Linked DNA regions of Homo sapiens. The protein of the gene in region 1 interacts with the protein of each later gene in a pairwise test. Each region holds a gene or a part of one and is shown in the gene's direction. Other genes may lie near its edges.

What was found.
Region 2: the proteins of TBX15 (region 1) and POLE2 interact in binary tests that used the Homo sapiens proteins (3 or more experiments, as listed by UniProt).
Region 3: the proteins of TBX15 (region 1) and VGLL3 interact in binary tests that used the Homo sapiens proteins (3 or more experiments, as listed by UniProt).

The regions. Positions count from the first base shown.
Region 1 is NC_000001.11:118,929,303-118,936,414, reverse strand, and holds part of TBX15 (T-box transcription factor TBX15), read left to right. Parts: intron 1-4,582; coding exon 4,583-4,796; intron 4,797-7,112. UniProt on the Homo sapiens protein: Probable transcriptional regulator involved in the development of the skeleton of the limb, vertebral column and head. Acts by controlling the number of mesenchymal precursor cells and chondrocytes.
Region 2 is NC_000014.9:49,685,154-49,692,617, reverse strand, and holds the start of POLE2 (DNA polymerase epsilon subunit 2), read left to right. Parts: upstream 1-4,403; 5' UTR 4,404-4,414; coding exon 4,415-4,482; intron 4,483-7,464. UniProt on the Homo sapiens protein: Accessory component of the DNA polymerase epsilon complex. Participates in DNA repair and in chromosomal DNA replication.
Region 3 is NC_000003.12:86,981,044-86,988,155, reverse strand, and holds part of VGLL3 (transcription cofactor vestigial-like protein 3), read left to right. Parts: intron 1-7,112. UniProt on the Homo sapiens protein: May act as a specific coactivator for the mammalian TEFs.

The DNA.
Region 1 (7,112 bases):
CAGTAACGAATAATTCCTCAAAATTAACTGTTAAGTGGAGATGCCAAGACTGTAAAATATGCTTTTAAAATGTCTAATTTGGATATTAAGTTTTTATTAGACTAAAAGTGTATGCAATTTAGGCATTTTCTATGTATGGTAACCAAATGAACCTATTGTAGTTGGTTCGCTTTTGTTAGACTTGGTGGTCTCTAAGCTGTACTACTAATCCACCCATTAGACATTCAAGTTAAAAGGGACCTTATACACTTCCAATTAAATGTGCATGTGCTGTGCCATAAGGATTAAGGAAATTGGGGACCAGAATAGTCATGTGACTTGGCCAAGATCAAACATATTTAAGCCACCTTAGTTGTGAGGATGGTTAAAATAGTTAGGGGGTGTTACAGAGTTGCCAGCTGTTTTGGCTGGGTTGAACCTAGTGTGCTTTTGGGGAGATCTGACCATTGGATCAGGATGGAGAAGATGTGCATTCTAGTACATGTTAGTTTTCAATTTCTCTTGTTTCAGTGTCCTTGTCCACAAAATAGACATAAAAATACAAGCTATGTCTATCTTATCAATGGGAAGACAATATTAGGTAATGTGTAAAACATAAATTAAAAGTTCTTTTATTATTATTGCTAGAGTGAGAAGTGAACGTACTTTAAGCTAAACTCAACTTTCTGTGGGAACTTAGTGTTACAGCATTCATTTTATCAAAGTGAAATAGGTCAGAGATAGAAAGTAAAATGATGGTTAAAATATCTTTTTAAAGGATTTTTTTGGGGGGATGAGAATAGATATGTTGCTTTGGCCCTGTGAGTCACAAAATGTTCTCTAGTGACTTGTAACTGGCTCAGCGCAGGTTACTTAAGTTTTCTCCTTTAGCTGCCTTGGTTACATGTAACATTTTATGTTCCTGATTTACTTAAACTTCTTCTGTTGAAATACTATTCTGACAGTATCTGATAGCCAAGAAATCCTGCATCATTCATATGAGTTCCTAATGGCTATTTTTTGAGGACAGGAAGTCACAAATTGCCAAGAATAAATGACCTTGAAAACACAGAGGTGTTTTTTGATCTTTAAGGGACTGACTGATTATATTTCTAAATGGATGATCTGATTTGATTAAAATAACCAGCTGTGTGTTTCTTCCATGACTTAGATAACTTTATTATACATCCTAATTAATAGCTAAAAATTTTGATCTGGTTAGCCAAAATATTTTCTATAACTATGATTTAGAAATGTATTTTACAAAAGATTAAATTTTATTTTTACCTAGGCTGTTAATCTTGACTCTGAGATTACTATTTTAAGGGTTTTGTAGGGTTGCTTACCCCACGGGTGGCCCTAACCCTTCTAGAAGCTTTTTAAAAAGAGCATCTATAAAAGTAACAGTAACTTTATTTCAAGATTATAATATTTAAGAAACAATTGAGAATAGAAGATTGCATATGCATTCATGTTATTGAACATGTGGGCTGTTGCTTACATTCTTTATATAAAAGTCACTGGATCCTGTTTTGTGAGAGAGTGAAAATCTAGAAGTTCAGGGTATTTCCAGTTAAATAAATGTCTTTGAAAATCCTCTTCATGGACAAATACTGCCTATGCCTCCACAGACTTGCCCATTTCCTTTCTAGTAACAATGGGTTCCCCAGGAGTGTTCTAGCCCTCTTGGATCTCTTTCTCTTCTGGACTTCTAAGAGACATCTGAGACAGTATGTAATGGTGTGGAAAACTGTGTGGCAGTTATTTGTGTTGCTCTCTGATTATTTTTGAATGCTCATAGTCTCCACTGTACTGTACTTGAAGAGAGGTCCCATTGTGTACTTTGTTATTTCCCAGAATCTAGCACAGTGCTGGGCACATAGTAAGCACTCAATAAACACATAATTAATCAACACTAACTGGGAAATTTCTTAAGGTCTTGGATTCTGTTTCTAATTATCTGCATGGTACTTCATCTAAGGCCATATGCTGATAGGTGCTTATTGATTGATTTGATTGAAACTATAAACCCTTATAGAATACCCACTCAATTATTTAACTCCTATGGTAATGTGAATCTGAGCCCCCGGTCTTTTCCCTTATTTAACTTGTCTTGTTCAAAGAGTTTTAAATTTGATGTTTCTAATTGAGGTTACCTGGGTTAGCACTTGCACTGGGGAGGATTCTTACATTCAGGTCATTAGAGGTGTAATCCTTAAGTTCATTCTTTTTCATTGCACATTGAGGACCTAGGCCCCCCCTGTGGTTAAATGGCTTGTCTAAGGTTATTCATTAATTCATTTGATGTTACATTTTGAGTCCCTGTTTTGTTCCAGATGACATACTGAGTTAAGGGTAGAGTCTCTTATTTCATAATTCTCTAGCCGTAGTCCCAATTCCAATCTCAGCCTCAATTTAGCTACCATTAATACTTATCTCTTAGTGTAGTGATACCTTTCCTTCCCTTTTCCAGTTCCTAAACATACATTGGAGAAATCATATGTCCAAAATTTCTGTTGGGTCCTACTTAAGGTGTCTCTTTCCAATTTTTTGTAATTGTGGCACTTTATGGTGAATTTTGTAACTTTTTGCTTCCAAAAGCAGGACAATAATATATTTTAAAAATCTTTTTCTGAGGAGGTTTTTTGAAAAATTTACAGTATTCATGATAAGTGAGGAGCTCTTAAAATATCCCAGACACAAAATAGGATTTGGGAATCCATGTCTCAGGGGACATGAATTAGTGTGTTTGGCTGAGTGTGTGATGATATAATGGCTCTGCTACTGAAAGGCCTATAGAATCAGGCTAGGATATAGATTTGTCACTCAGCAACAGCTGTCATCTTAGATAAGTAGTTCTACTTTTCAGTGCTTGGAGAAGACCAAAAATAGCTGCTACTTAGTCCTAGGTATAAAATTATGTGCTTAGACATGTAAAACCTAGTTATAAAACTTTATAGTTTTTTTTTTTTGTGGGTGGGGGGCAGAGGGGGAGGGAGAATGAAGATAGTGACTACATCTTCATGTAGTGATTATGGGTAAACTGAAGTTTTTGGTCAGAAACTTCCCCTTTATTTAGAAGTTTGATTTGGTTCTTTAACAACCTGAATATCTTCACAAGTGACAGGTGAGGAATTAGGGAGATGGAGAGAAATGACACTTTTTCCCCTGTGGGCACTTTATTCCCTGTGGCTTTGACACAGCTGTTAGATATTCTTGCCAGAGATGCTGCCTGGGGTTGCAAGAGAAAAAAGTCAGTGACAAAAGGAAAGAAAAGTAAAGGAACAATGGGGTGTATCTTTCACAGGTCTGCAAACCTGCTGCAGGTAAGTGAGGTTGGCAGCAACGTGATTGGGCATTCTGTCCCATTCTTTTCCATCTTACTAGTGTCAAGGATTGATGCTCAAGAAGCTCTGACCCTTGACACCATTGAAAAGTCACTCATCAGAGTACAACACTTGTTTCCAGCCTTTACTCATGAATATATTTAACTCCAAGGAAAGCAATCAGAATTCTAGATGTTAAGGGTGGGTTAGAGAAATGGATTCTTAGGCTTGACTTGCAGCATCATTTGACCTAAGAAAATTATACTAGATAATCTGAATTTGAAAAATGTTAGGACACACAATTCTTGGCATTAAGCTCCTAAAGGTAAATATTTAAAATTCCAGTAAATCTTCCCGGGTAAATCTGGCTCTAGCCTTCTCCATCAGTCAGCTTCCCCTGCCCCCCAGCCCCACTTGTCTTCATGAGTACAGAAGACACAGGAAAGGACCATCTGGACCAGCATGCCAACTTTTTATTTGGTTGCTCTCAATCCCACCTTCCTGTTTGGATCACCCCTCCCCTCTGCCCATACTTCAGAAACCAATCAAGGTGTCTCCTGAACTCATTTATTCCCTTTGTTTCAACTGCCTTTTTGGGTAACTTTTTCCATATGCTTACATCCTTGACTCACAACAGAGGTTTTTTTCCCATCCAAAATGGCCTGATTAGACTCTTAGGAAAAACCATTTACTCAAATATATGACAAAGTACTTCTAAAGATCCCAAGCAGCTTTTCATTACTTTTGATGGCCATGGCTTATGTAAGTAGAGGAAAAATTTCTGTGTTTAAAAATAACTGACAGGCAGTGATGCTGAGTGGTATGGAATTGAAGAACATAATGTTTGCACTGAATCTTTACTTGCACAAATGTAATAGTCTAATCTAGGTTTGGACCTGTAATTTATAATTATTTTAGTTTAATATGGCATTTATTTTGTTGCCCCAGTTTGGCCTCATTCTCTTCAACATGGTGACATTAGTACTATTTATATTGCCTGTTGTGGACCAATTTTCTTCAGCTGTTGCTAAAACTTACTAAAATGCCAGATGTCATGTTGGAAACACGAAACCTGAAAGAAGGTCATAAATCACAAAAACAAACCATAAAAAATAATAAAATACCCTGAGTGCTGTGCTCTGGAGCTTCCCAGCTTTAAGTCTCCTTTTGTTTACCCCTCTCCCCACTTCATTGCATTTCCCACCCCCATCTTTTAGGGCCATGGGTGAGGGGAGCTCAGCAGTTTCTCACCTAAGGCTTGATTGTTTATTTTGCAGATTCTGAGCAGAGCACTGGTTCAGATTCTGAGGTCCTCACTGAGCGGACTTCCTGCTCCTTCAGTACTCACACTGACCTGGCCTCTGGTGCTGCAGGCCCTGTGCCTGCTGCCATGTCTTCCATGGAGGAGATTCAGGTGGAGCTGCAATGTGCTGACCTCTGGAAGCGGTTCCATGATATTGGAACTGAAATGATCATCACCAAAGCAGGCAGGTAAGGACAAATTCCTTTGAGTGGCCAGATTCAAAGAATTTGCAGAAGTAGGAGCCATTACATTCTTCCATTCTTATTTATTTGTGATGGCATCAACAAAACCAAAGCAGCTTGCACTCACTTCTCTGCATTTGGACATCTTGGTAAAGTTGTTCTGTTGTGTTTGTTGTGATTGTATTATTTTCCTCCAAGGGCCAATCAAATGTAAGTCATGTAAATCACAAACATTTTCCACCTACAAATGTATTTCAGCTAATATTGGAAGTCCATGGGATCTTAACAGCCAAAATATATATTTCCAAAGCAAGTGTTTACTTCACCATTAAATACTTTCAAGAAGTTTGCTTCCCAAATAACAACTTGCATCTTCTAAAGTATTTAAAGCAACAATGCTTTTGTAGTAATTTTTAAAAAAGAATTGACTTGATGCATATTCTGAGCCTGTTGATGTCCATTGTGTTTTATCATTGACTTGAAATTATTACACAACTTTATTGGTGACCTATGGAATTTCTTGTAAAACTGTTTTTCTAGGATTACAAAATTTTAAAAACACAGCTTCTCTTGATATAGACACTTTTAGTTAAGCTACTCCTTTATTGGTATGTTTCAACTTTCCATAGTTAAGTATTTATTTTGTGCTGGACACTCAACATACATCTTTGAAACTTACAGGAACCCTATGAGGTTGGACATAATCATCCCATATATGGATTAGGATGCAGAGGATGAAAGACATTAATTAGCTTGGCTAAGGCACATGGGTACTAAGAGGCAGCTCCAGAATTCTGCATAAATCTGTGTGGCTCTAAAACAGTGGTCTCAACTCTGAACTGTGAAGAAATGGCTGTAGTTCTTGCCCCTTGGATTCAAAATGAAACGATTTAGATAAAATTAAATTTGGGCCGGGCACGGTGGCTCACGCCTGTGATCCCAGCATTTTGGGAGGCCAAGGTGGGTGGATCACCTAAGGTCAGGAGTTCGAGACAAGCCTGGCCAACATGGCAAAACCCTGTCTCTTTTAAAGTTACAAAAATTACCTGGATGTGGTGATGGGTGCCTGTAATCCCTGCCACTTGGGAGGCTGAGGCAGGAGAATCGCTTGAAGCTGGGAGGCGGAGGTTGCAGTGAGCCAAGATCGTGCCGTTGCACTCCACCCTGGGTGAGAGAGCAAGACTCTGTCTCAAAAATAAATAAATAAACAAACAAATAAATAAATAAATACATTTGGACTAAGCTTTTCAGCATATAGGAATAGTTCATTGAAATTAAGCAAAACAGTTATGCTACTTTTGTGTTTTCAAAGCCAGTGTACATAATCTCACATGTCATGGGGAACAAAAATCGCATCTTACTGATTGTGAGCTGTTTTCATGAACATAGCCATTTAAAGTAAAATAATATTTTGGTTGGGTCCAGTTTATCTACGTGTATATAAGGAAACCTCCCAAAACAATAAGATATGACAAAAACATGAAGTTAAAATAAATCTGAAATTTTGTTTATTTTCTTTCTTTTCTGGAGCTCTCTTCCTTCTCTCAGTAGTGAATAAAACCATTAAAGGCTTCCTAGGGGGAGAAGATGGGCTGGATAACTGTGTTCAATATCATCTCTTTTTCGTTGCTTGGGTCTCAGTGTACTTCTGTTCCACATTTTGTGGTGTAAAGGCTTGGAAGAAAACAAAGTAACTCAAGGAAATTTTTTTAAAGTTTTTGGTAGAAGAGTTGGTTTGGAGAGAGAAGAAATATTACATTTTTTTTTTGTCTATAAGATTTTCCGGTATTCTTTTTGGGTTTTTACTTTATTACTCTTGGGTCTCTGTATTCCAGTCATGTTTGTTCCTGATATCACTTCGTTATTCCCTGTGCTTTAGTGAATTGAGTTCATTTGAGCATCTCCTTGACAACCTTCTTGTGACTCATTTTGTAATTCTTCTGCAGTATTTTCATTTCCATATCCCTGATTTCACAAGTTCACCTTAATATCTGGATACTCTACACATTCCCCAAGACAGACACATAGTTTGTTCTTTAGTAATAATTGAAATCCTTTGTTTAAGTTTAGAAACTACATTAATTGGTTCTGTATTCAGTTGTCTCAACTGTTGTTACTACATCTAATTCTTCTCAGGTAATTCTGAAACAACTCTGAATCATACAAATAAGGCTTTCTCTTCTGTGAATTTTCTTCATTCCTTCTCATTCTCCTGGTTAATTTCTTGCTTCTCACTCATTTTTCTTGCTATGCAGTATTGTCAGTATTCTTTTCCATTTTAATTCCAATCTCCATCTTCTTAATTATGTTAGTTATATATGG
Region 2 (7,464 bases), on another chromosome or scaffold:
AAAGCTTTATTAGATTCTAGTTCAGATTTTTTTTTGGAAAATACTTCATATTGCATCACATTAGAAGGCACTTAAGTCTGGTGCACTTTAATGATACTTTCTATTGTTTATTTTTGACTATACAAATAAACAGAGTATCTGCTCCTTTTCTTACACAAAAGGAAGTATATACAGTGTTCCTTAACTTTCTCTTTTCACTTGACGATCCATATCAGGATACAGCAAGCAGTCTCCTCAGTCCTTTTCATAGCTTCATAGCACTCCACCGATTGGATGTGTCATAGCTTATTCAAACAGATTCTTATTGATGGACATATCGGTTATTTCCAGGTTTTTTTGGCTATCATAAATAATGCTGCGATGAAACGTTATGCATATGTTATTTTGTATTTGTACAAGCCTATCTTTGGAGTAGAGTTCTAGATGTGGAATTGCTGGGTCAGAGGATAAATGCATATTTAACTTTACAAATGTAACTGGATTGCAGTGGCTCACGCCTCTCATCTAAGCACTTTGGGAGGATGAGGTAGGCGGATCACTTGAGCTCAGGAGTTTGAGACCAGCCTGGCCAACCTGGGCAATCCCGTCTCTACTAAAAATACAAAAATTAGCCGGGCGTGGTGGCGCATGCCTGTAATCCCAGCTACAAAGGCAAGAGAATCGCTTTAACCCGGGAGGTGGAGGTTGCAGTGAACCGAGATCGCGCCACTGCACTCCGGTCTGGGCGACAGAGCAAGGTTCCTTAGAAAGAAAGAGAGAAAGAGAGAGAGAGGGAAAGGGAGAGAGAAAGAAAGAAAAAGGAGGAAGGGAGGGAAGGAAGAAGGGAGGGAGGGAGGAAGGGAGGAAGGAAGGAAGAAATTCAAGATAGACAAAAGTGATCTATGATAATAGAAAGCAGAAAAGTGGTCATTTGGGAGTAGGGAGGGGGAGGGGACTGATGGAAAGGAGTACAGGAAGTGTTCTGGAGTGATTAAAATGTTCTGTATCTTGATTGAGGTGGTGGTTACATGGGTGTATACATTTATCAAAATGCATTGAACTGCATACAGATATGTGCATTTTACTTAGTGTAAACTATATGTCAATCATAATTCTCACTCCATCACTTTATTGTTACTAGTAATATTGGTATTGTATTTTTGAAATGGAGCATTTGTCCTCCTGGACTGTAGAGTCTGGTGGAGTCTATAGACCAGCAAACAGACAATTACCATACCGTGCAGTAAGTGTGAAAATAGCAAAAGTCCAGGGCACCTTGGGTGTACAGAGGCCCTTTAACTCAGATTGAGGGAAGACAGGGAAGGTTCCTGAGAGAAAGTAAAGTCTAAGTTAAGAACTGAATGATGAACGGAAGTTGTTCAAGGAACTTTCATTCGTGAGAGGGAAGAGTCAAGGATATGCCTAGTTTACCAGCTTGGTCACTGGGTGGGAGGTGGGTGGAGCCCTTCGCTAGGTTATTGAACATGGGAGGAGGAACAGGTTTGGGGGAGGGCAGGGCTAATGGTGAGTTCATTTGGAGGCATATTGAGTTGGATTTGAAGTCTAAGAGAGCTAAGGGCTAGAGATAGGGATTTTGGAGTCATCAGCATATAATTGTTCATTTAAGTATTGGGACTTTATGAGCTGGCCAGGTGAAGGAGCCATAGAAGAAGTTGAAAATTTATTAGAGAAAGAGAATTATGATTGGGAACATTTATGGGAAAAGGGGAATTGTGAGGTCAGATTGTGAGAGAAAGCTGGGCAACTGGAATTGATTATTTTCTCTCCAATTTCTTAATATAAAAAGTAGCAAACCAAAAAAAGTTGAAAAAATAGTTCAAAGAGTACCTGTGTATCTTCCACTCCAGGTTAATAATTATTAATACTACCATACTAGCTTTATGTTTGTTGGTATGTGTGTGTCTGTCTTTTTCATTTTGTTGAATTATTTGAGAGTGGGAGTGCCTTATGGAGAAAATACATGTGATAAATAAGCTTCCTTCAGCTATGAGTTATAGGGCTCTTGGCCCTGAGTTCAGTGTTAACGAATCACAATGTAAAGATGTCTTTACATAAAAACACACATAAAACAAGGTTATAGGCCGGGCGCGGTGGCTCACGCCTGTAATCCCAGCACTTTGGGAGGCCGAGACGGGGGGATCACGAGGTCAGGAGATCGAGACCATCCTGGCTAACACGGTGAAACCCCGTCTCTACTAAAAATACAAAAATTAGCCGGGCATGGTGGCGCGCGCCTGTAGTCCCAGCTACACGGGAGGCTGAGGCAGGAGAATGGCGTGAACCCGGGAGGCGGAGCTTGCAGTGAGTCGAGATCGCGCCACTGCACTCCAGCCTGGGCGACAGAGCGAAACTCCGTCTCAAAAAAAAAAAAAAAAAAAAAACAAAACAAGGTTATATGTTGATCAGTTGATGAAAACATTGTCACCAGAGGCTCACAGGAACCTAATTCTGTACTTCCCCTAGTAGGAATGGTTTAGTATTCAATAATTATTTGTTGGTGGCTACTTATAAAATCTAACTATCACAGGTACAGTAATGAGAATTAACTATATGTCTTTCTATTCGTATTTCCTATCCTTTCTTACATAAAAATTAAAAATTTCTTTGTACTTTTTGTCTTTGAAAAATATTTCACTAAATAAAGAGAACTGTGTTCAAAAATCACTTGTGATGTTATGTTACCAATTTAATATACAATTAGGTGTATTAGTTTTAGTATGCATTCAATTTTAAGCTCACCTTTTTATTTTCTATTTTTTGAATATGTAAAACATGCACATGGATTAAAAGTCTCACTGTAAAGAAAGTTTTCACTTTCATCCCTATCCCCTCACCCCTTTGTAGTTAACCATTTTTGTGGTCTCTGATTTAACCTTCCAGAGTTGTTTTGTTGTTGTTGTTGCTGTTGTTTTGAGACAGAGTCTCACTCTTGTTGCCTAGGCTGGAGTGTAATGGCCCCATCTCGGCTCACCGCAACCTCTGTCTCCCGGGTTCAGACAATTCTCCTGCCTCAGCCTCCCGAGTAGCTGGGATTACAGGCATGCGCCACCATGCCTGGCTAATTTTTTTGTATTTTTGTAGAGACGGGGTTTCTCCATGTTGGTCAGGCTGGTCTCGAACTCCTGACCTCAGATGATCCGCCCACCTCGGCCTCCCAAAGTGCTGGGATTACAGGCGTGAACCACTGCGCCCGGCTTTTTTTGTTTTTGAGACAGAGCCTTGCTTTGTTGCCCAGGCTGGAGTGGTGGCACGATCTCGGCTCACTGCACCCTCCGCCTCCGAGGCTCAAGAGATTCTCCTGCCTCAACCTCCCCAGGAGCTGGGATTACAGGCGCGCGCCACCACGCCTGGCTAATTTTTTTTTTTTTTTTTTTTTTTTGGTAGAGACGGGGTTTCACCATGTTGGCCCGGCTGTTCTCGAACTCTTGGCCTCAAGTGATCTGCCAGCATCGGCCTCCCAAAGTTCTGGGATTACAGATGTGAGCCACCGCGCCCGGGCCCAGAGGTTTTTAAAATGCAAAAACAAATACATATACTTTTGTTTCCCTTCCTTCATTAAACTTCGCTTTTTTTTAAAAAAGAAAAAAACCCGTATACGTTGGAGGTCACTTTATATTGGTACTGTGAAATCATCCTCCTGTTTTATAAGCCGCGTGTTTACTTATAAGCACTCCACGGGTTAGTCAACTCATTGGAGCAAGCGTTTTGAAGTGTGGCAGATTGACAGTCCACCTGAAATCAGAATAACTGAGTTCAAATCCTGACTACACCATTTAACTCGTCGTTTCATCTTGAGCAAGTCCTTTACCATTTTTGTGTCTCAGTTTTCTCATCTGTAAAATGAGGCTGTTGTGGAAAAGACAGTAGACAGCTCACTGGGCTGTCATGAGCAACACATGAATTCACACATTTAAAGTGCTTATGACAGTGCATGGCGCATACGAAGCCCTCAAGTTAAATAAAAATCGGGGTAGGTGGGAGCGATGGAGATTTATAACAGCTTCCGGTAAATGTCGAGGCACAGTATTTCCAGAGCTTGTGCGAAGTAGGGAACCCAACAGCTCTCATGGCCTCGAAAGAAGGGGGATCCTGTGTCCGGGAAGCTCGGCCGCAGTCCTGCAATGTCTAGGGCAGCGGTGAGAGCGCTGTGGCTGGCTCAACGCAGCCCGACACCAGGGAAGACGCTCTGGCCCTCAGTTTCCCGGCAGCAAAGGAGCGCGAGGTGGTCTCCACTTTCAGCCTACTCGGTCCGGGGTTGCGAACTGTAAGGTCTGAGTTGCTGCGGCGCAGGCAGCGGAGACCAAGCAGGGATCTTAACAGGGTTTAGCGCCACGCGGGCCAGGGCCGAGGCCGGAGCTGGGAGGGGCGCGCCCGGGAAGGGGCGGAGCTGCGGCGGTGGCGCCAAATCGCAAATATGGCGCCGGAGCGGCTGCGGAGCCGGGCGCTCTCCGCCTTCAAGTTGCGGGGCTTGCTGCTCCGTGGGTGAGTGGGCTCGGGCAGCTTGAAGGGCGAGAGGGAAGAGCTGGGGCCCGTCTGCCTGGTGCGGCAGCGGGACGCACCGCGGCGGCTCCCCGCGCGCCGAGAGGGGGCTTGACCTTAAATTTCAGAGTTCTAAGAAGCGGTCGGGCGCGGTGGCTCACGCTTGTAATCCCAGCACTTTGGGAGGTCGAGGCGGGCGGATCACGAGGTCAGGAGATCGAGACCATCCTGGCCAACATGGTGAAGCCCCGTCTCTACTAAAAATACAAAAATTAGCTGGGCGTGGTGGCGCGCGCTTGTAGTCCCAGTTAGTTGGGAGGCTGAGGCAGGAGAATCGCTTGAACCCGGGAGGAGGAGGTTGCGGTGAGCCGATATCGTGCCACTCTACTCCATCCTGGCGACAGAGAGAGACTCCATTAAAAAAAAGTTCTAAGAAGCGAGGTGGATCTTGAGGCTGCCGTGCCTTCTTTGGTTTCCCCGACCCATGCGAGGAGTTTAATGTTTCTTCTAGGCGGGCCGAGGCTCTTCTGCACATGTCAAACTGAGCCCGAGAAGCTGCAACCTATCTATGGCAGCCGGTTATCAACATTGTGACCTGGACAGCTCTCAGGCTCCCGGGAAGGTTGCTGAGACATAAGATGAGAGACCCGAGAAAGCCCACTTGCACGTCTGCAGTTGCCAATTTATGTGAAAGTCAGGTTTCCTGGGCATATCCGTGTTTTTGAGGACCTATAGAACATATGAACCTTCCCAAGATTTCTCTCATTAAATCTGCTCCGTGTTTTAGAGTTCTATATGTACGTGTGTGTGTGTGTGTGTGTGTGTGTGTGTGTGTGTGGTGTGTGTGTATATATATATATGTATTTTTTTTTTTTTGAGTCATGGTCTCACTCTCGCCCAAGCTGGAGGGCAGTGATGCGAACTTGACTTACTGCAGCCTCAACCTCCTGGGCTGAAGTAGCTGGGACTGCAGGCATGGGCCACCATACCTGGCTGATTTTTTGTTGTTGTATGTTTTTTAGAGACGGGGTCTGGCTATGTTGCCCAGGCTGGTCTTGAACTCCTGGGCTCAAGTAGTCCTCGCGCCGTGGCCTCCCAGAATGCTGGAATTACAGGCGTGAACCACTGCGCCTGACCTAGAACACAATATTTTATACATATTGAAATACCTGCTGGATTGGATATACCTCTCTGTATCAGTTTTTATTGCTTTTGTGTGTGTAGATTTTTGGTTGGTTTTGTGAGTTTTATGGGACTTTTAACTGTGCTTTGGGAGATGCCTTGGGAGAAAATAATGAATTTTGTTCAATTGGTCCTTGACATTTTGAAAGCATGAGGAACTGATGAATTAACTTTCTTTTCGCTTAGAATTTGACCTAATATTAAGCTTTTGTTCATTAATTATTTCAGTCATAAGTATACTTAAATCTGTTAGCTGCAAAGCACCGTGCTGGGGTAAGGGGGTGCAATAGAGAGCAAGAGCTTTGTAGGGGGCAGATAATGTATTCTATTGCTGCGTGACAAATTACCCCACAATTTAAAGGCTAAAACAGTACACATTATCTCAAATTTTCTGTGGGTTAGGAATTCAGGTGTGGCTTAGTTGGGTCCTCAACTTCAGGGTCTTTTCACAAGGTTGCAGTCAAGATGGATCATCTCAAATGTTGTCCAGACAGCATTCGCTTCAAGCTCATTCAGTTGTTGGCAGGATTCAGTTCCTGATTGCCTGGCAGGCTGTTGGCTGGAGGCTATCCTCAGTCCCTTGCCATGTGTGCCCCCAACATGGCTTCATCAAGAGAGAGAGTCTTCTAGTAACTCTGAGGCAACCTAATCAAGGAGGTGACATCTTGTTATTTTTAAATTTTTTTTACTTTTAAATTTTACTTTCAAAATTATAATACAGTAAGTTATTCTATCCCTTTTGCTATATTCTATTTTTAGAAACAAGTTACTAGGTCCAGCCCACACTTAAGGGCAGGGGATTACATAGGTGTAACTACCAGGAGTAATGGATTATTAGGGGCCATCTTAGAAGTCTGTCTACCATGGATATTAAATGACTATTTTACAGCTATTTAATCTCAATTGTGAAAGGGATTCCAGGAAAGAAGGGCTATGAGAGTTTATGATAAGGTGTATAAACTGCCCTAGAGTCAAGGAAGAACTTCACTGCAGAAGTGGTTTGGGCTGACTTAAAGAATGAGCAGGACTTGGCTGGGCGCAGTGGCTCACGCCTGTAATCCCAGCACTTTGGGAGGCTGAGGTGGGCGGATCACGAGGTCAGGAATTCGAGACCGGCCTGACCAACATGATGAAACCCTGTCTCTACTAAAAATACAAAAAAAAAAACCAACCAGCCAGACGTGGTGATGTGCACCTGTAACCCCAGCTACTCAGGAGGCTGAGGCAAGAGAATCGCTTGAACCCGGGAGGTGAAGGTTGCAGTGAGCCAAGATTACGCCACTGCACTTCAGCCTGGGTAAGAGAGCGAGACTCCATCTCAAAAAAGAAAGAAAGAAAAAAAAGAAAGAACAGGACCTGACTAGGTGGAGAGAAGAGTGGGAGGAAATGGCCATATAAAGACCCTAAAGCAGGAGAGTGCCAGGAAGGCCAGGGACATGGTATGAGCTTAATGGGATTTGGCAGGGGCAAGATTCTGTATGGCTTTACAGGCTTTGGTCTATGCTAAGAACTGTCCCAAGATGCAACCAAAATGTATATGATTTTAGGGACTCAGTGGTCAAATATTTATGGACCACCTTCAAGTGTATTTAGAACTCTGTGGAAGGATGGCACAGAGTTCTAAGTTACAGTTTTAAAGTTATCTATAATTCAGTTCTCAGTTATCTATAATAAATTTGAGAGATGCAACACCTACACACAAAACAACTAATAAAGCAACCCAATATATAGAACAATTAGTGTTATGGCTATAACAATAATATGTGAAATGTTAAATTGTGTGCTACAAATACAGAATGGCAT
Region 3 (7,112 bases), on another chromosome or scaffold:
AGTTTTATATTACTTCTGTATTCAATTGTAGTAGTGTATCTGTCAACTAATTTCCCCCTCAAACTGTATGGCTCTGAAGTCCTTATTAATTACTGTATCAAAATGATTCCTTATGATGGATTTTAAACACAGGTATATTTTTCCTCTTAACAAATGATCATATAACATTGAGAATTATTTTGGAAATAACAGAACTTCATTATCCAGGCATGTGTACTCTCACCTGTTTTCCGATAAGCACAAATGTGCACCTGAAATTTAAGTTTAGGTTTTTGTTGAACATATTGCATGTTGTAGGTGGGTAATAAGTGAATGTCATTTTAAAAACCTAGTTAACTGTATATATATATTAGCTTGCACTGCAGTGTGTTACTTAGGTATACAGTGGGCTAAAAAGTCAAAGTAAGCTAAAATATGTGCAAAGTATACATTTTATTGTCCCTGACATTAATTACTAGAAATTGCATGGCTGGGTATAAATCCTACAGTGGGGTTTATAGAGCCAAAATTACTGAGGGATGCTGGGTGACCTGTTTCGCATGCCCACCATCTCTTTCTGGCTTTAATATGTCAGTCTCTAACAACTCCTCAGGAGAACCCTTGACTCAGTCTCTCAGCACATGCTGTCAAAGGTTTCAGAATTATGCAGTTTATAGATGAGACAGAGAACAGTCACTGGTTTTCTAATTGTGCATGGGGATTTTTAACAATCACACTTTGGGCTTCATATAAAATGGAGTATATTTACTCTGTCCTCTTCCAGGGTAACAGCTGGATGAATCTGCATGCATGCTTTCACTTGAAAAAATTAAGTGCCCTTGGAGGGAGAACTTCAGTTATAAGTTTTGTAAGGTGTTTTTTCAAACTCTCTCTGGACTCTGCTACGTTGGTTGAGTCATAAAATTGTTCTGCAATTCGGTTTGTCAGAGAAAAAAGCCCTGGAAAAACATAACTTCAACTCTTCTTTTTACAAGTGAGAAAATGGATTTTTATAGGGCTGAAATGCCTAGCTAAAGATTTCAAAGCTGGTGACAAAATTAGGATCACCAGATCCCCCTTTCTCCGGTGTAGCATCTTTGTACAATGACATGAAATTTCCTAAAGCTTTTTAAATTTTTTTAATGTTTTGCTATTGCACAATAGGCTTATTTTTGTCTTTAGGTCCCCAATCAATTTTTTTTCTAATGAAGATTAATATGCAATAGATTCTTTGGCGTTGGAGTGCGAGATTCTTTCCAAGTCCTTGGTAGTGTACTTTTTTAAGTTTAGGCATTCCAAAGGCCGTTAGCAAGCATTTGGATTATGCTAATGACTTATGCTATCCATGTTGCACCCTTGTTGATGAAACAGTATATCCAGTTAGCAAATGAATATTTATTTATCTAAAATAAAATACAGGAAGTGGTATTAGCAGTTAAGTGTCTCATCTATTATTGCTATTCCAACATAAGTTTAGATTCATTAAGAGAAAAGAATACAGTTATAACCAAAGTAGTTTCAATTCACAGACAACTTATTTGAGGCAGAGGATCTATTTTTCTTGCAACTGTAAGTAAGGACTTAAGTAGATTTATAAAAATTTATACAGGACTTCTTTGAGAAAGAACAGCCCCTATAACTTCACACTACACAAATTAACTTCACTGTAGAGACTTCGAGACTTAAAGTGCCCCACAGCTTCATGCTCCCTATAACTTCCCAGCCAGAAAATTCAAAGCTGGAGGAAAAATTAAATGTTAAAATAATTGAACTCTTATCTCTGGCAGTCAACCAGAATCGAGATTACAATGATGATGGTAAGGGCAAGATTGAGAACCATAAAATCATGCATAGTGAGGATGTGTTCACCAAGAAACAAAATGCCAGGACAAGGTGACACTGTGGAAATTTATGTAAAGGGTATTCTGGCTAAATGCAAGGAAGTTCTACCTTATCTAGCCCTTAGTAAAATTTCACATCTCACAAAGCCGGAGATGGCAAGGAGGTGACCTATAAGATGGTAAAAGAGGTGTTTAGAGTGGAAAGTCTTGTTCTCCTATGCACTGTTTCTTCAGGTTACTGAAGAAGAAGCTGGGCTATGTGCGTGTGTGTATATATGTGTGTGTGTGTATACGTGTGTGTGTGTATATATATATATATTTGTCATATCTATCTGTGCAAAGGGAATTTTCAATGGGAATAAAACTATTATGCTTATGATGCCTAAGGCAGATCTTAAAGCAAACTTGTAAGCTAGGTGACTGTCATTCTAAGACCTGGGTGCTTAGCTTGGTTCTCACTTCCATAGGCTCTGTGTCCAACTAACTTTTTAAAAATCTGAAAACTAATATATCTTGTAATAGATAATATGTTAGGGTATTACCTCCAAGAAAACATTTTTATTCAAGAAGCAAAAGCTCTCTAAGAGTTGAATTTGAGGCTCTGTCAGGGACAGTGAAAGCAAAACTTTTGAGCTAAGCTCTGCTCTGAACCTTTCAAAACACATCTCTTTAAGCAGCTGGTTTTCTGCTCTGACTACTCATTTAGGAAGACCTAAGACTGCCTTGAACCATTAGACCCAAACAGCTGCTGCTAGAACAACTCATAAATCCATATTTACTGATAGTTCAGTGGATACCAGATTTACGCCAGTAATTTACAAGTGTGGTCTGAACTAGGGTAACTGAACCATTTTTCACTTGTCTCCTTCTTTAGTTGAAGAAGAAAAGAAGAATGACTTAAATTCAACAGGTGTCATTTCTCCTTAAAACCAAATGATTTCAGTATGCCAAAACACTTGTCATTGGAGGATGCAGTAGGGGGACTCTAAAAGTCTATCCTTTCTTGTTAATATGAAGACAGATAAACGAAGTGCCATAACTAATTCCTAGGAATTGGGCTAGATGACCCATGTCTGAAAATAAATTGTTCTTCAATGATCTGTAGGGTTTTTTTGGCTAAATATCAGAAGAGGCAGCCAATGTAAGAAAGAAAATTAAGTGTGAATTTGTCTAGAGCTCCAGCATGTTGCTTATTAAGATATAGAGTTGGATGAGAGACCTCTGAGACAATCAAATCAAAGTTTCTTGTTTTCAAAAGAGGAAGCTAAGGGCCAGAAGCTTCAGTGGCTTGCTCAGACTCATGGAAATAGTTTCGGTCAAATCTTCTTTCCCATTTCAGTTCTTTTTTATTGAATTCCCTTCCCATCTGTGCTGCTTTAGAAACAAGAAAACAGTTAGTAATTAACCTATGTTATCTTTTGAATTTTCTTACTTTTAAATTTTGGAATATTAGCCACTTAGAGATTATAATGCCATCAGCCATATAAATAAACCATGAGGCTCTCTTTATTTATTATTGCCCTTACTATACTCTTCCAATTAACTATGAGAAGTTTGAGTTTAGGAACAGGCTATGACTTTCATCTTTGTGACTCCAAGTCTTTGCATAATTTCTGACACAAGGTAGGTATTAATTGACAACTAGATAAATTAATGAATAATGGATAAATTACCTTAAAAATGAAATTATACCCTAAGTCTAGTAATAGAATTATACAAACTAACTAGAAATTTATATGTTGGAAACTGTTGTCTCCTTCAAAGTAGTTGGTTTGAGAGAGAACACATACCCTCATGATATGATCATTGCTTAAAACATTTTGGGAATGTAAATTTTGAAATCGCCTCTAAGCCTGTGGCACATTTTTTTGAACATCATCAAAACTGGCAATTTTTCTTCCTTGGAGGGGTTAGGTTTGATTTTTTGATAATGTCAAGAATCATTTAGAGGCAAATGCACTCAAAAGTAACTCATCCTGTTAAGTTATATTATTTTCGGTTGGCTCCTCCCTACTGTTAACAAAAACAGAGAAACAAACACAGAATCCTGAGGTGTGATTTTGTCTCACAGACTGACTGGTCAAATTTCCAAAATAAGATTTTCAGAAAAATTGTAGACAATTGTTTTATGTATCTGATTTGTCAAGGAGATAATATGTTCTTAGACATAGAAGTTCAATTTCACCTAGAATTATATATGTTTTTAAAAGCATGACATTGTTTAATCTCTAACTTTTTAATGTCATGAATTTTAGACTGTCCTAGTTAGCATGTGATGCCATGCTGACTGATGTTTTCTGTTTGTCTGTTTATTCAGTTAAAATAAATATCGTAGAGACACATTTTCTTTAGTCTATTTTCTGGGTACATGCTTTGTAAACAGACAGAAATAGGTTCTAATCCCATCTCTGCCACTTACCATTATAGTTAGGCCATCCTGACCCAGTAATTTGCATATTAACTTATTACTTGGGAATACTTATTCTGACAAAATATGTGTATGTGAGAGGACAGTTATGTGAAATGAAATATACAAAAGATTTGTGATATATGTTCCTTAACTTGACCCAACCTCATATAACTTGACCTATCCTTCTCCAAATAGACTAAGAACCAAAATCTGTTATCCAAGTAAATTAGGAAATATGTGGCCAGGCACGGTGGCTCATGCCTGTAATCCCAACACTTCTGGGAGGCTGAGGCAGGAGGATCACTTAAGGCCGGGAGTTGGAGACCAACCCTGGCAACATAGTGAGATCCTGTCACTACAAAAAAATTAGAATAAAAAATAAGGCCAGCATGGTGGCACACACCTGTAGTCCCAGTTGAAGTGAGATAATCATTTGAGCCTGAGAGGTGGAGGCTGCAGTGAGCCGTGGTCACGCCATTGCACTCCAGCCTGGGCAATGAGTGCAATGAGTGCAAATGAGAGCGAGAACCTGTCTCAAAAGAAAAAAAATATATATGGTCACAGAGTAATGTGCTGCTTTTATGTCCTCTATGATTTTGAAATATTTACCCTGGGATAGTGATTTCTTCTTATAGCTCCAATCATGTTTTTGAATATGAAAGAATCATTGTATTTTAAAAAGATAGCCAGTAGATTTTATTTTTAAATCTGTTTCTAAATATCCAAAGACTCCAGTGATTCATTAAAATACTTTTGTTTCCCTAGGAAAAAAAGTTTCCACATATGCACGGTAATCATTTGGCATTTTGTAGGCTTAAGCCTTGGGGAGTTAGTGGTATTTGGCTCCTGACATGGAAGTCTTTCTCTTGTCAGACAAATCCTTCCCCTGCACATTCCTGCTGAAAAATTTGTTGCTGTTGTGCCTAATGGCAAGCAGTGTGGTGGTTGGATATGGTCTGTACTGCCCAAGCGAACTCTCCACATTGATACTTTAACCTCTTTGTGAGTTAGCTTTAACTTTATAACTATTAACCCATTTATTGTTTCATCTTACTCCAGAGTCATTTTACCGAGGGAAAAATTGTCATAACTATGTAGTGGTGAAGAGACATAAATGTGCATTTAAGAAAAACAACAACTTGTAGTCTTTAAAATCCCTTTAGATGACTTTATTTTTGTTAAAATTTCTGCAGGGTCTTCGAAGAAAAACATAAATATTTCTGAGAAATCTGGATATTTTTAGGAAGTGATTGTGCATTTTGAGAAAAATACCAATTAGATTACATTGTGACCTTCAATCAGGAAATCTTGGTTCTGATGATTTGATATTTAGTCTCGATGTTTTGAATTTTATATATTATTCCCAAGAAAGAATGTAACACCAGGAAAATTTCACTGAAGGAGCAAACACCAAGTGAATACAGAATGTGGCAGAAGTGCTTATGAGCAAAATACTTAGTTAAAAAAAAAAAAAAAGCAGAGCTGGACGCAGTGGCTCATGCCTGTAATCCCAGCACTTTGGGAGGCTGAGGCGGGTAAATCACCTGAGGTCAGGAGTTTGAGAGCAGCCTGGCCAACATAGTGAAACCCCGTCTCTACGAAAAATACAAAAAATTAGCTGGGCATCGTGGCAGGCACCTGTAATCCCAGCTTCTAGGGAGGCTGAGGCAGGAGAATCACTTGAACCTGGGAGGCGGAGGTTGCAGTGAGCCAAGATCACACCATTGCACTCCAGCCTGGGCAACAAGAGCAAAAGTCCATCTCAAAAAATAAAAATTAAAAAAAGCAATAAATTGATTTACAGTCAACAGAACACAGACATTAGAAAGTAGTTGAGGCACCAGAGTCTATGGAGAATGAAATTAAGATGGGATGAAAGGCAGCATTTGAATCCATTGCTGTTTAAATGCTGTATTTCTGTTTTCCTCATGATCGCACTTAATGTTAAAAACAAGTATGCAAATTCAACCTTGGCACATTAGTGAGTTATCAGGCCATTTGGATACTTTGAGATTCTTATTTTAACCAGTACTGTTGATTGTGAGGCTATGTCTGTGTATGTGAGTGTGTGTGTGCTTGTGTGTGTTGTAAACGTAAATATTTAAATTGGTTCATTATAATCTGTGAAAATTAACCTAACTTTATCTGAAAAAAAATTGCAAGTGGCAACGGTAGACATTCTTGTGTCCTGCCTATGGGTAGATAGAAGCTTTTTTCATTTTATTTGTTTGATAGTTTTCTAGCAAATTTATTTAATTAGTAAAAGAATCGAGAGAGATAAAAAGAAAAAAGAAAGTATATAATCATTACAAAAAATTTTATTTAATTAGAGGAATCAGTATAAATATTTTAAAGAACCATATATATTTGCTATATCAAAAAGGAATATTTCAGTATACATATTTATGTAAATATAGATATATTACATATATGAAATAAAAAGAATATAAAGAATACATACAATGAGAGAATTCTTTTTCTAAAATAAACTGATGACAGATATTTTAATGCAGGGGCAGCTTTTGCTTACTATTTCCCATTGCATATTGAAAAATATAATTTTTAGGTTAGTTTATTTCTATCCAACCATTGAAAAATTGGTAGGAAAAGTAACACAATATTATGAAGCATTTAGAAAACTGTGAAATCTTAAATCAATTGAAATTCTATAGTTTAAATACAATAGTTTAATGGATTTTAAAATATCGATTTTAAAATTGATATTTTATGATTGCTACTATTGATAAGAATACTATTTGACGTTTGTATCAGGATTCATGGCCTTCAAATCCTTTACATATATATAACTTCAATTTTATTTCATCTAAGAATTAATTGCTGTCAATTAAGGATAAAATAAAACTTTGACTTTATTTGGATTG